Regions from separate parts of the Homo sapiens genome. Here region 2 is linked to region 1. Evidence: fine-mapped QTL for protein levels in blood plasma. Region 1 holds a variant in brackets. A gene starts in the other region. All regions are shown on their reverse strands.

Region 1 (2,911 bases):
TCCGTAGCTTGTGGTGTCACCACAGTTTAGATCTAATCTTCAGCTTTGCAGTGGTGGTTTCAAAAATTCAGTTATCTCACCTAATACAGGTATGAAATAAAGTATCTGGGATGAGAGAGGGGGTGAGACTTCGGAGAGAGTATGAAATCTGATGAAGGGGGATAAAGGAAAGGTCGAAGAAGATGGGAAGTTGATCTAGGGTTCCAATTTCAGGACTATTATTACTAGTTATGGGCACATAATTGGAATTTATCTGAGAATTATTTTCCCTCTCATTATATGAGAACAAGAATACCTACCTAACAAAGCTGGCGCAAGGACTGATTTTTGTCATGAATTCACTGTACAGCCTATGACCAGCACATAATCTATGCTCAGTAAATCCCACTTTCTCTGCTAAGATTTGCACAACTGACAAGTTACGCCATATCTAAATGATTTGGCATAAACACACTCGGGTCTAGAAAGATATTTCCACAAAGGGGTAGGTCTCCTTGACCTACTATTAGTTGCATTGTCTGTTCTGTGATGTCTGAGTAAAATATGACCATGAGACAAGTGGTTTTACTTTTTCTATTGCATAGCTCCCTACCAGCTTAAACCTGCCTGGCTTTGTTGGCTGCCTGGAACTGGCCACTTTGAATAATGATGTGATCAGCTTGTACAACTTTAAGCACATCTATAATATGGACCCCTCCACATCAGTGCCATGTGCCCGGTAAGAGACAGTTAAGAGTACTAAAGACTTGGATATTCATGCAAGAGCAGCAGATAGAACAAGTATGAGTCAATATTCAGGTTCTCAAACTTTTCTTTGGGGAAGCCAGTTTTGAAACTACATAAGTCATACCTGCAAAAAACTCTTCACCTGTTCTCTATCATAGATGAGCATGCCCAAGTATGAAGTGTTAAACAACTTGTTTGCAGCCTTGATTAAGGATTCCAGAGACTAGGGTGTCCCTGGAGACTTCAGTTGTCTTAGCACACAGGATACAGAAGAAAACAATCCATTTAACATACCTACAAATACCTCTTTATCTCTTCCTTGCAGACAACAGGACTTCATTTAAATGTTGTAAGGTCCACAGAAGATGTTAGAAGAATGGGTTAAAAGGGCTTCACTTGAAAAGCATAACAGAAACTGTAGTGTTCAAATGACCGTTGTGTTTCCATTTCAGAGATAAGCTGGCCTTCACTCAGAGTCGGGCTGCCAGTTACTTCTTCGATGGCTCCGGTTATGCCGTGGTGAGAGACATCACAAGGAGAGGGAAATTTGGTCAGGTGACTCGCTTTGACATAGAAGTTC[G/A]AACACCAGCTGACAACGGCCTTATTCTCCTGATGGTCAATGGAGTGAGTAAAAATACAAGTCCTACTACTTCTCCTTTATTTCCTTTACTTTCTGCTACTCATGTTTCCAGGAACCTTCCCAGGTCTAGTGTGTCATGCCATCAAACTGAAATTCTAGTTTAGAAAGTCAAATTGGATTTTCTTCTTCAGGAAAGTAATGACAGCAATAAATAAAAGCAACCCTGAGATGCATTTCCCCACAGTACATTTTTGGATATAAATAAACTAAGAGAACTTTGAGGAAATTAGAACCAAGATCTAGATGAGCAGGGTGTCTGCAGAAATTTTGCACTGGGCTCCTAACTTTTCCAAACCATATGCCCTAATCAATTTTAAAGCAAAGCTTGCATGCTTTGTATATATGTATGTGTGTATGTAAGTATATATGTATGTACACACACACACATATATATCTTTGTTTATAAATGATACATGTGTACTATAAACAGATATAAATATAGTATGAAACAGTCAAAGCTTGTAATAAAGGACAAATTATATAAAGATAAAATAAAAGATTATATATTTAAAATGAAGATTAAATTGACTTATTTATTAATGATACAGAAATGTTTTTCTCACTAAAATTATTTTTAATAGTACTTTATCTACTGTACAGCTCAAAGAAAATAGTTTTAGTGAGAAAATGTAATTAAGTATGCTAAATATTTTCAAAAATCCTTAAACTCTTTGTGACACAGTGATTCAAAAGTCTTGTCCTAAGTCCAGTTTATTTCAACAGTAATTTTATTGGTGGTTGTAACTAGACAAGACACCTCACAAAAATAAAAAATGAAAGAACCATATCATTAGCTGTGCCTACTAACTCAAATAGTTTTCAATCACATTCACCAAGTGGCAAAGGTTGTCTTTGAGATTTGATTGGTGTATTTCCTTTTTTCTAATATTAGTTCTTGTAAGCTAACCAGGTATCATTTTGTAAACTTTAATAAAAGGGTTCAAAGCTATTGAAAATCTTTATTTGAAATATTTTTCTAAAGGTTAGAAATTTCTTCCCTCAAATGTTTTAATAGAGCTGATAGGAGAGTTTTTGTAGGATTGCATTTACATTGTTCCCATCAACAAAAGCAACAATAGAAAAATTCCCAAACATATTTTTTAAAAACCATCTCTCCACAGTATAACCGTCCTCAAAAAAAAGGAGAAAAAGTTACTTTCTCATCCATTATTATGATAATACCCTTACATTGATGTGACAGTATGTTTCTTTTTTGAAATAACTAGTAGGATTCATACTACTGTCAGACATTTGTCATCACGAATAAAGTTCAACAAATTTAGAATAATTCATGTTACAAAGAAAAATGTGTAACCCTCTATAAACTTAACAGCATTTTCAGAAATTTGTAGGAAGTAGCCAGCAAATATCTGTGTGTCTCAAAATGTTTTCACATCACTCTACATCTCAATACAAAATGAGTGTAAATATTCTATTATTTCGGTTATATCAGCCTTAAATCCATATAACTAGCCACACGTAAACTGCAATAAATTGCAATAGGCTAGAAGCAAAGAAATGGATGAGGAGCTACCTTCAACTCTT
Region 2 (2,911 bases), not on the chromosome of region 1:
CCCCTATTTGGCACTCCCTGGTGGAGGCGCGCCAGCAGATGTGGACCCCTTTTCTGAGGCCAGGCTGCTGGGGTCAGAGTGAGGCAAGAGCACCTCCCCCTCCCTAGAGCCTTAGTTCAAGAGGCCAGAAGACCCAGGGAGAAGCCGGCGTTTTGGGAGAAGGGGAGCTGCAGAGCTCCCCACCCAAGCAGGTCTGATTTGATTCTTCCCTCAGCTATGGACCCACAATCAATAGGGCTGGGGAAGACATGGGGTGGGGGAAGATCAGCGCTGCCGGGATCCTTTCAATCATCAGGAACAGCAACAGGTTTGCAGGGTCAGGCTGGGGACCCTCGCCCATTAACTCTTTCTTCTCCCTGTTTCTTTCTCTTAGGTGAGGGGAAACTGAGTTCCAGGGTAGGCTCCAGAGTGAAGAGGGAAGAAACATGATTCTCAAGGCCCAGGTCTGGACAAGTGTGAACACCTTGGGCCTGCGAATTCAGCCCCCTCCTTCCTTTCTCTGGTCAAAGGCTAGACTTGCAGGAGCTTGCGTTTGAAGGGACAGCCCAGAAGGCATCGTCTGCACTCCCCATACAGGTACTTCTGGGTCTGTGGGACTGGCGCAGGGTTCTTCTCCCAAAGCTGCCAGCACTGAGGCTGAGGCAGTGTCAGGCCGGCGGCAGCGGCAGTGGTGCAATCGTTCTGGGAAGCGATAGAGGCCGGCCTGAATTCTCTGTGGCAAGGGAGGGGAGCCCAAGTGGGAGGCCCCTTGGGGACACCGAGGACCAGGTCCGCTACTGCTCCTCCCCCAGGAGGTCCCCTAGGGGCTACATTGGCTGGCAGGGGCTGAGCAGCGGTGAGCCTGGCTGGCTTCGACCCGGGGCGACTCCGGGCATCCGGGACAGCTTCTCCTCGCTGCCACCTCGGCCAGTCAGACCCCGAGACACCTGTCACTACCCCCTCAGCCTTCCCAAGCCAGGAGCCTGGGAGTCCGGCTCTGGCCTACCTCCGGCAGCGCTCCTAGGCGCAGCTCCCGGGCTGGCGGCGCCGGGGCCCGCCCCCTAGGGCTGCGGCGCGCGGGGCGGGGGCTGGGGGCTGCGCGGGGCGGGGCGGGCCCGGGCGCTCCGGGCCCCCTCCCCCGCCCCCCTGACGTCAGCCCCCGGCAGCCTCGAGCTGCTCACTTGGCTCTCGCCCTCCGGCCGGGAAGCATGGGGCTTCCCAGGCTGGTCTGCGCCTTCTTGCTCGCCGCCTGCTGCTGCTGTCCTCGCGTCGCGGGTGAGTTCGCTCGCAGGGGGGCCGCGCCCCGGCTAGGGGTCTGCGGTGGAGCGTGCCAGGGAGCAGAGCCAGCGGCGCGGCGGGGTCGGGGCGTTGCGTCTGGGAGGACGAGCCTCCTCCCTGGGTCCCCGATCCCCGGGCGCCTTGCGCGCGAGCAACTCTTCTTTGCAGCCAGTTTGCAGCCGGGATTCTAGAGTATCCCGGGAGCAGCACTCGGAAGGCGGGGAGGAGGCTGCTTCTGGGAACGAGAAGGGGTGGAGCTCAGCCTTTCGGGGTGCTGGGGGGTGGGTGGTCCCTGAGGTGCTCACTCTGGGGGCCCGCAATTGAAGCCGGGCAGGAGGCGCAGCTGGGGCGCATCCTCAAAGCCTGAATTCCGCGCCCGCCTGTTGCTGGAAAAGGCAGCTTCCTTCGCTGGAGGGGGTGCGCCGACCCACCCCTTCCCCCTTCTGCCTGGGCATCACGCCAGGCTGGAGGTGAGCGAGAGCGGGAGGTTCGGCGGCTCCCGCCCGAGCTGGGCGTTGGCAGGGGTTGCGGGGCGGTGTGGGTCGCCTCGCGCCTCCCCGAGTGATGGGATCATAGGGGACAGAGATGAGGGATGGAGGATTCCCATACTGGAAGCGCCCGCTGGCTTATTTTGGGGACCACATTCAGGTGGGAAGTGCGCCCGGGCACCTCGGAGCGTTTCTCCGGATCCGCCTGGTAGCAGGGCGCTCTCGGGTCCACGCTGCCCTTGTATGGCCCGCAGCGGTGTCGCGTGTTTCTCTTGGCTCCCATTCCGCCGTCCCAGCCGCTGTCCGGCTGGGGAAGGGGAGGGCTAGGCAATACCCAGCTCGCTGGCCTCATGCCCAGTGCCAACCATGTCCCTGGGGTATTCCAGGCTACTGCCTCCCAGGCTGACTTTATTTCTGGGGAAAGGGCTAAATCGGGCTCCACAGTTGCAGCCGGTCCAGCTCCACCCTGCCCTGCTCTTCTAGCTCTGGGAGGAGTCAGGGGTCTGAGGCTCTGGGTTGGAGACCCCACCTTCCACCTGCCCTCCTTGTCCGAGAGCCAAGGTAACAACCCAGGCATCCCAGAGCCCAGGCAGATGGTGTCGAGTGACATCACCTCCTCACAGGGCTGGCAGCACGCTGGCACCACTGACGTCACTCCTGCCCACTGCCTGGCCCTTGCCCTGACCCCTGGGGGAGACTCTGACCTCTCCATCCTTACCAGCTACCTAGGGTGGGGTCCGCGGGTGTGTGCGGAGTGTTCATGGAGGTGCTGCTGAGGGAGCATGAGACCGGAACTTCCGCCAGAGTTAGCCCGCTGGGGAGTGAGGGCAGGGATTTTGGAGGGCAGAGGATAGAGCAGTGGTGTCTTCCCCTGGCGGTGGTGACACAAAAGGGCCTGTGTGCCCCAGCCTGGCACATGCTTTGCATTCCCACACTCTGAGCTCACCCGGAGAGGAGGGGGCCTGGAAGGAAAGGGGCCTTCCTCTTGGCCCCGAGCCTAGGTTGCCCCTTTCTGCCCCTCTACCAGCCTCAGCTGGAGCTGTTCGGTGCTCAGTCTCTGCTCAATCTCTGCTTGGCTCCAAGGACCTGGGATCTCCTGGACGGGGAGAGGGCTGGCCCAGGTGGGGCGCGGGTCGGGGTGGGGGTAGAGCGTTCAGAGGACAGGG

Which allele goes with the higher level. Positions count from the first base shown, and alleles are read on the strand shown. Strength reflects both the effect of a copy and how common the allele is.
In carriers of allele A in region 1, the plasma level of the protein whose gene starts at base 1,159 in region 2 tends to be higher than with G alone (moderate association).

The links. PIP is the chance, under the fine-mapping model, that this variant and not a neighbour inherited with it causes the effect. The UK Biobank Pharma Proteomics Project read protein levels with antibody pairs (Olink). The fine-mapping took linkage between variants from a reference panel, not from the people measured, so its PIPs are less certain.
Region 2: it holds the start of MCAM, and the variant in region 1 is fine-mapped to the plasma level of the MCAM protein (UK Biobank, PIP above 0.99).

What each region holds. Positions count from the first base shown.
Region 1 is chr6:112,137,559-112,140,469 of GRCh38, reverse strand. It overlaps LAMA4 (laminin subunit alpha 4), which reads left to right. Exons shown (of 39, transcript NM_001105206.3): 23 at 585-718; 24 at 1,179-1,350. The region is part of intron 1 of LOC107986633 (a long non-coding RNA gene); the gene reads right to left. Among named protein-coding and RNA genes, the nearest start is that of FAM229B, 51 kb to the right of the region's middle. The variant G/A (reference allele first, on the strand shown) is at 1,307.
Region 2 is chr11:119,315,378-119,318,288 of GRCh38, reverse strand. It overlaps MCAM (melanoma cell adhesion molecule), which reads left to right and starts at 1,159. Exons shown (of 16, transcript NM_006500.3): 1 at 1,159-1,254. The coding sequence starts at 1,188. RefSeq lists a silencer at 821-880 and an enhancer at 2,473-2,911.